Linked DNA regions of Homo sapiens. The protein of the gene in region 1 purifies or fractionates together with the protein of each later gene. This does not show direct contact. Each region holds a gene or a part of one and is shown on either strand. Other genes may lie near its edges.

What was found. The genes of interacting proteins can lie anywhere in the genome.
Region 2: the proteins of RNGTT (region 1) and PPP4R3A purify together in Homo sapiens (affinity purification with mass spectrometry; 3 studies listed by BioGRID and IntAct, with this or other methods). This does not show direct contact.

What each region holds. Positions count from the first base shown.
Region 1 is NC_000006.12:88,851,857-88,855,805, forward strand, and holds part of RNGTT (mRNA-capping enzyme), read right to left. Parts: intron 1,909-3,949; coding exon 1,773-1,908; intron 1-1,772.
Region 2 is NC_000014.9:91,508,560-91,512,159, forward strand, and holds the start of PPP4R3A (serine/threonine-protein phosphatase 4 regulatory subunit 3A), read right to left. Parts: upstream 1,752-3,600; 5' UTR 1,089-1,751; coding exon 947-1,088; intron 1-946. UniProt on the Homo sapiens protein: Regulatory subunit of serine/threonine-protein phosphatase 4. May regulate the activity of PPP4C at centrosomal microtubule organizing centers.

The DNA of each region.
Region 1 (3,949 bases):
TATTTTTAAAACTTCACAAGAATCTATTATGCCGCTCTCAGTTATCCAAGTTTGAGGTGAAATAAATAGTATTGCTAAGTTAAATCTGTAGATGGTTAAATATCTAATTTTTAAGCATTATTTCCTACCTAGAATGCCCTCAGCCCACGTCCATCAAAAATCTTTCTATAGAAATCTTTCTGTTTCTAATGCCAACTCCTACACAAAACATATTTAGTTCCTAACTAACTAGATGTGATTTATTTCTCCTCTAAACTACCTCAGGACTTAAATACCTCTCTTTGGGTTATTGTTTTATTCAAAGGTCTCTTCCATCATTACCATTCATTCTCCACCCTGCTCAATTAAGCAAAATGTTTCAAGGGTGAGGCCTTCTCCTCAACCCTCTAAGCAATACCCGTACTCTTGGTATAGCAACTCATAATAGGCACTCAACAAACATTAGTTCAATTATAAACTATACTAAACTTTGACAAATGCTATTACTTAAGTCTTTTCCTTTCTTATATTTTATTAATTATAATGCTAAAAAAAGTACCTTAAATAAAGATAACAAAAACTAAAATGTTCCTGCTGTTCCCATGAACCAACTACCAGAGCTGCCACAAATGACTATGACTTTTATGTACTATACAACCCCAAGGGTACCAGTCACATTAACTATGATAGTTAAATCTATACACATATAGATACATATACATGTACATATGTATATATATATCATTTTTATTAGAAAGTGGTATTTTGTTACTCATGCTGTCACAGGAATGAAAATTTACTAGATACAGGAAAAAATACAAAAATCAAAATGTCCAACAAAAGGGAACTGGTTAAATAAATTACAGAACTATTTCTCAAACTTGCCTAATTACAATCACTTGGTCACTTGTACGGACATGTAGGCCCCTGGGAGATTCCAATTCATATGGTCTAGGATATGCTATTGGAAAGGGTCATATTTTAAACAAGCAATTTTTTAACCCTACAATTTTCACAGTCAAGATAGTTTGGAAACCCCAATTTATGGTCTCTATATACACAATGGTAAACCATTCAGACATTTATGTGAAAAAGATGTCCAAAACACATTGCTAAGTGTGGGGAAAAAGACAAGTTACTAACCACATGTAACATATGTTTCTCTTCATGCAAAATTATATAACTATCCATATGTATACATATTTGACCAGAGCACTCATTTAACACCCTTTACATATCTTTAACAAATTTCTCCACCAAAGAAAATATCTCAAAGTCTTACTTATGCTCAAAGATTCAGTTGGCAGATCTCTCTTTAAGAGGACCTTAATTCAATATAAGTATACATAAGAAATAAATGAAATTTAACATCCTAATAAAAGTTAGATTTGGCTGGGCGCAGTGGCTCATGCCTGTAATCCCAGCACTCTGGGAGGCTGAGGCGGGTGGATCACGAGGTCAGGAGTTCAAGACCAGCCTGACCAACATGTGAAACACCTTCTCTACTAAAAATCCAAAAATTAGCCGGGCGTGGTGGCACATGCCTGTAATCCCAGCTACTGGGGAGGCTAAGGCAGGAGAATCACTTGAACCCAGGAGGCAAAGGTTGCAGTGAACCGAGATCCCGCCACTGCACTCCAGCCTGGGCGACAGAGCGAGACTCCGTCTCAAAAAAAAAAAAAAAAAAGTTAGATTTCATTCGAAATTTCTTAACCAACAGAAATACACATTTACTTACAAGGAAAAGAAAAATGGCAATGTTTAATTTTATAGTATACATAAATATGACTTACGCCATCCAAGAGAGTATTTGATAAATGCATACGAAGATCTTTACGAAATGGAAATTCCAGATTTGAAACATGAAATACTGAATTGTCTCTATCAATCATAAAAACTTCATTTGTGCCATCAATCAACATCATGTACCTGTAAATGAAACATTAAAAAGCTAATATTTACAGTATAATATCAAGAACAGGGTCATGAGAAATAACATACTGGTTTTCCATAGACCTTAAACATCTGTAGACTAATGTTCACTGGAGTCTCTTTATCATGTAGATTAAAGTATCACAAATAATAATTTTTTTTTTTTTTTTGGAGACAGAGTCTTCCTCTGTTGCCCAGGCTGGATGGAGTACAGTGGCACAACCTTGGCTCACTGCAACCTCCGCCTCCCAGGTTCAAGCAATTCTTGTGCCTCAGCCTCCAGAGTAGCTGGAATTACAGGTGTGTGCCACCATGCCCAGCTAATTTGTTTGTTTTTTCTTTCTTTTTTTTAGTAGAGATGGGGTTTCACTATGTTGGTCGCGAACTCCTGGCCTCAAGTGATCTGCCCACCTCAGCCTCCCAAAGTGCTGCGATTACAGCGATGAGCCACCACGCCTAGTCCACAAATAATAATTTTTTTAACTTTTTTCATTTCCTATAGAAAACACAGAGTATAGGGAATTCTAAGTTTTTTATGGAGATAATGTGATATTCAGGAGTAACCTTATGAATCCATCCTAACAGAGAATGGTTCTCTAATTTTTATGAGATCTTAAACATTGAAGCCTTTCAAAGTTTACAAAATACACATATACACATATATAAATGTACTTTACTAGCTCAATAACTATATGGATTAGGTATTCTCTCCACTTCAAAATAGAAAAAAGCAGTGAAAAACATTAAGTGATTTGCCATTTGCCAGACTTTAAATTATCCAGTGCTCTTTCTACCATACCTGTTAGCAAAACAGCTAATCCCTCTCTTTGAATCAATATCATGATATAGCCAGGTACCACAATATCAGGTATAACTTTTCTTCTCATTTATGACTATAAAATTAAAATATTTTTAAACACAGCCATAAGATTTTCAATTATCTCTTATCTTCTTAAACTCAATCAACATATGGGGGAATTCATACACTTAACAACCTGTCATTCTTCAAATGGTTAGGTTATCATCACTGATTTCCCATCAGCAAATCAAGAATGGAGTTCTATTTCACACCACATATAAAGTCCAGATGGACTGATGTTGAAGACATTACAGTCTGGGAAGCTATGCTACCAAATGGATAATAAGAAGACTTGGGGTGAAAATGAAGATCAAATCCAAGAACCAAAGTCTTCAAAGAATGAGAAAAAATTTATAGCAAAAAAGATTAGAAAGTTAAAAGGCATAAGCCTCAAAGAAACAGAATCATTTTGTTAGGCTGTTTTTGTTTGGTGTTTGGTGTTAAATGAAAGAATGGAAGAAGAGTGGTCTGGAGGTACCAACGAAAATGAAAGAGAACACTGACCAGACTGCCCAACCTCCTACCCGCAAAGTACCTGAGGTATGTCCAAAAAAAAGGCAGCAACGACTGAAAGATGCAGCTGAATCAAGTTAAGATTAGGGGACAGAAGAAATATTACATGAAGACATGCAAGCTAACAGAGTATATGGAAGCTAATATAATAGTGGATAACTGGCTAACCACAAACCAATGTTCTGAAGAGCAAAGTACACATGTTTAGGATAGGTGAGGAGAAATAGGAGAGCTGATGAAGGGAAAACAAGTGTACAAACAAAATGGAAAAGAGCAGCATGGAAGACCAAAGGGGCTTATGTTTTTGGATTAGATTGTGAAGTATGTTGTTCTTTGCTGTTTCCAAAATAATCAGTTCCAAAAAAAAAAAAAGTGAAAAAAGAAAAAGGAAAGGAAAAAAGGCAACATAATAGAAAAAAATTTTTTTAAAGTTTTAATAATAATGATAATTAGTTCCAGCAGGTGTCTGGGGAGCAGATGGAGAGCTCAGGCCCTTGCTATAATAGCTGCAGCCCTAGTAGATGGGGAGTGTGGGGACTCAGGTTTCACTAGGAAAAATAAATTCAGCCTCAGTCTGGACTGACTGTGTATCTGAAAGACTCCTAGACCAAATGCCAGGCCAGCTGGCACACAGACAACAGGAATACTTAGTTCGCAAGACCCTCT
Region 2 (3,600 bases), on another chromosome or scaffold:
TTGAGTATTTTAAGTGAAATTCACTGTATATCGCCAAAAACAGTGGCAATCCCTACAGAGAATAAGCCTTTTAAAATATGAAACAGCACATGTGGAAAAAAGAAAAAACGTGAAACACTTATTTTCAAACAACTTAGTCTTTGAACCTTGAGGGCTGTTTCAAAATTTGTGAAGCATAAACACTAGGGAAGATCCGAAAGGTTTTAAAAATTATCTGCCAACTTCTCTGCACCTGTTAACCAAATTATGAACACCCATTTAAGCAATCAAAAAAAGCTCATATGATTCCAACTTTGCAAGATGTTTATATAGTAAGCTACACACAAAATTCTGCATTACTATAAAAAAGACAACCAACACTGGTGAACGAAAATCTTCGCAAGGGAAAGCGTTTTCTCTTAGTGTAGAGTTGCCAGATACAGTGTTGCCAAGCTTCAACACGATCAGAAACATGTAGCAAAAAGATGTTTAAAAAGAAAAACAAAAAAAGCACAGCAAAACGTTCTTCAAAGTGTGAAAGGTCCAAGAACTTTCTTAGCTCCAAGCAAAGTTTCATGCCTGCTTTACAGATGGGTGAACTAAGGCAGCAGATCGGATTAATCAGTGTCTTTCTCAAGGTCACTCTAGTGCAAAAGAACAGCACACTCCGGACTCCCTATCTCAGGTCCTCGACCTCTCCACACTCCAGGGCGGCACAGCTCAAACACGCTTGGCTCTCCTCGTACCCAAAATGCCACCAGGCACTCAGAGAAAGGAAACATTTCAAGCGCTCTCCGGGGAGCTCCCGCAAGACTGGGGTACCTGGGGCCCGTCCTCCCCCGAGGTGGCCGCCCTCCCCAGCCGTCCCTCTGTTCTCGTGGAGCGAGCGCCATGCCCCGCAAGAACCAGGGAGGCGGCCCAGGGCCGTGGGGGCTGCGAGGGTCCCGCCGCGCGGGGCTTCACTTACCGTCGCTCTCAGCCCTGACAAGCAGGGACATGCCCTTCAGCCGCTCCACGTAGCCAGACGACACATGCCCGGTGCCCCGGTCGTCCCACTGCCGGTCCTCGTTGAGCGTGTACACCTTCACCCGCCGCCGGGTGTCGGTCATCGTGCCGCCCGGGAACCGGGGCGGGGGCCCCGCCAGTAGACGCCCAGGAAAGGGGCCCTGGAGAGGCGAGGGGCGAGGCGTGAGGGCGCCCGCGAGCGGAGGGCTCCCCGGCCTCACTGCCGCCGCTGGGCGCCGCGGGGCCGCGCCGCCGCCTGCATGGCCCGCTCCAGGGACCGAGCTCTGGGCCGCCGCCTTTCCTCGCCTCCGGCTCCCCGGCGCTATTGTCCAGGCCTGGCGAGCCCGGCGCCCGGCAGCCCCGAGGGGGCCGCGCAGCGCTTCGTAGCCTCCCGCCCCGCAGCGCTAGGAACTCGGGGCTCCCGTCACTGCCCTGCTCCCGCCTCCGCCATGATCTCCGCGAAGCAGCTTCCCGCGCCGCCGCCGCCTCCTCAGGCCGCCGCCGCCGCCGCCATATTTTCCTTCCTTATACCTGGCCCTGCCACCGCGGCCAGTGGCTCCCTTCCGCTCCCCCTGTTTTAAACGTCAGAAGCCGACAGGCGCCTGATCCTGCTGCAACTGCTACCACTGCCCGGGAGACTCTGAGGGCCCCCGGCCGCCCAAGCGACCCGGACTAGTGGAAGTCGGTTTCCCTCCGCCGCCGTCTCTTCCGTCTTCCTCACACAGCCAAAACCGCCGCCATCTTGGTTCGCCCCTCAAAAGCGGCGCGCGGGGCCACCCAGGGAGCAGCTGCAGGGGCGGCTCGTAGCCCCACCATTTAAAGAGACAGCAGCGAGACCGGGAGCCTTACTGCGGCGGAGGCTTCCGACGGAGGCGGGAGGCGGGCGCGGAGTTGCCGAGGTGGCGGGAGCGCAGGGAGCGGAGGAGGCGGGACGCAGATTGCGCCGGTGACAGCCCGAGGCTCCCTCCCGCCTCCTTGCACGCACCGTCGTGCGAGCGCTGGGCGGTGTGTGCGTCCGTCGCGCCCTGTGTTCGTCATCAGCCCCGCTCCAGGATGCACGAGGGGCGTGGATACGTTTGCGGCCTCTGCCCGCGGGCCCCGGCGCTTCGGCCTCGCCTCCGCCCGCCGCCACCTTCCCTTGTTCCTGCCCCGTCCCTGCCTCTGCCCCTGCCCCTGGCCTGCGGACGCCGGGCAGCGTGGGCCTGGGCCCCTACCCGCTTCCGAGAGCGTTTTCCCGGGGCCGCCTTTATGGCTGAGTCGGGCGCTCGGGACCCACCCGGCGCCTTGCGGACTTGAGGGAATGAAATGGAAACGCTTCCGGGGAAGGTCGCGGGTGTGGGCGCCTAGGTCGGCGCAGCCTTGGGAGCCGCCGTGGGTCGCGGACTGGCGTGGCCAGTGTGGAAACTTGGGACTGTTTGCGATTTCTGGGCGTGGGACCGAGTTCCAAGTGACAATTCTAAAACTTCACCTTACAGCCTAGGCAAGCCCCAAGTGCTCCATTCCTTCATCCCTATCAGAACTGTCTGCCAGCCTTTCTTGTCGGAAAAGGAACTTAAGGCGCTCACAAAAACAAATGCGACACTGTGTAATCGGGAGGAGTAATTCTCAGCATTAGGTAGTCCTGTGTTTTGAAGACCTACTTGATGTCAAGTATTGTTGATCTTCACAAAGGAATATCATTCTCGTTCCTATCATGCAGCTCATATGCCACCATTTTGGTGGCTTTTACCATTTGCCAGGCCTTGCCAGGTCGGGCTTGTCCGCTCGGAATATAATGCAGCCACACACATAACTTTAAATTTTGCAGTAGCCACAAAAAGTACGAAGAAACTGGTGAAATTAGTGTTAACGTTTTAGTGCGGTATTTTCAAAAGTTATTTCAATAATCAAATTACTAATGAGATATACGTACAATGTCTTAAAAATGTGATATATTTTGTCCTTCCAGCAAGTCTCTGTTGGGATACTAAATTTTCATCAGAAATATCTACGTTTAGATTTTATTGAAAAAAAATTTTTTTTGAGACAGGGTCTCTCTGTCACCCATCCTGAAGTGCAGTGGCTCAGTCTCAGCTCACTGCAGCTTCAACCTCCTGGGCTGAAGCGATTCTCCCATCTCAGCCTCCCAAGTAGCTGGGACCACAGGTGCGCAGCACCACTGCCAGTTAATTAATTAAATTTGTTATTATTTTTTTTTTTCGGTAGAGACGGGTTTCACTGTTGCCCGGGCTGGTAGAGTTTATTAAATTTACAGTTGAAAATGTAGATTCACATATTCTGTTATTCCAATCATACTTAAAAGTTTTCCAAAAGCTGAATCAAGTATCAGTTTTTAAATTTAGCTGGGCGCGGTGGCTCACGTGGTCAAGGAGTTCAAGACCAGCCTGGCCAACATAGTGAAACCCCGTCTTCACCAAAAATACAAAAAAATTAGCCGGTCATGGTGGTGTGCGCCTGTAGTCCCAGTTACTCGGGAAGCTGAGGCAGGAGAATCCTTGAACCCGGGAGGCGGAGGTTGCAGTAAGCTGAGATTGTGCCACTGCATTCCAGCCTGGGCAACAAAGCGAGACTCTGTCTCAAAAAATAAAATAAAATAACAATTTAAATTTAAAAATT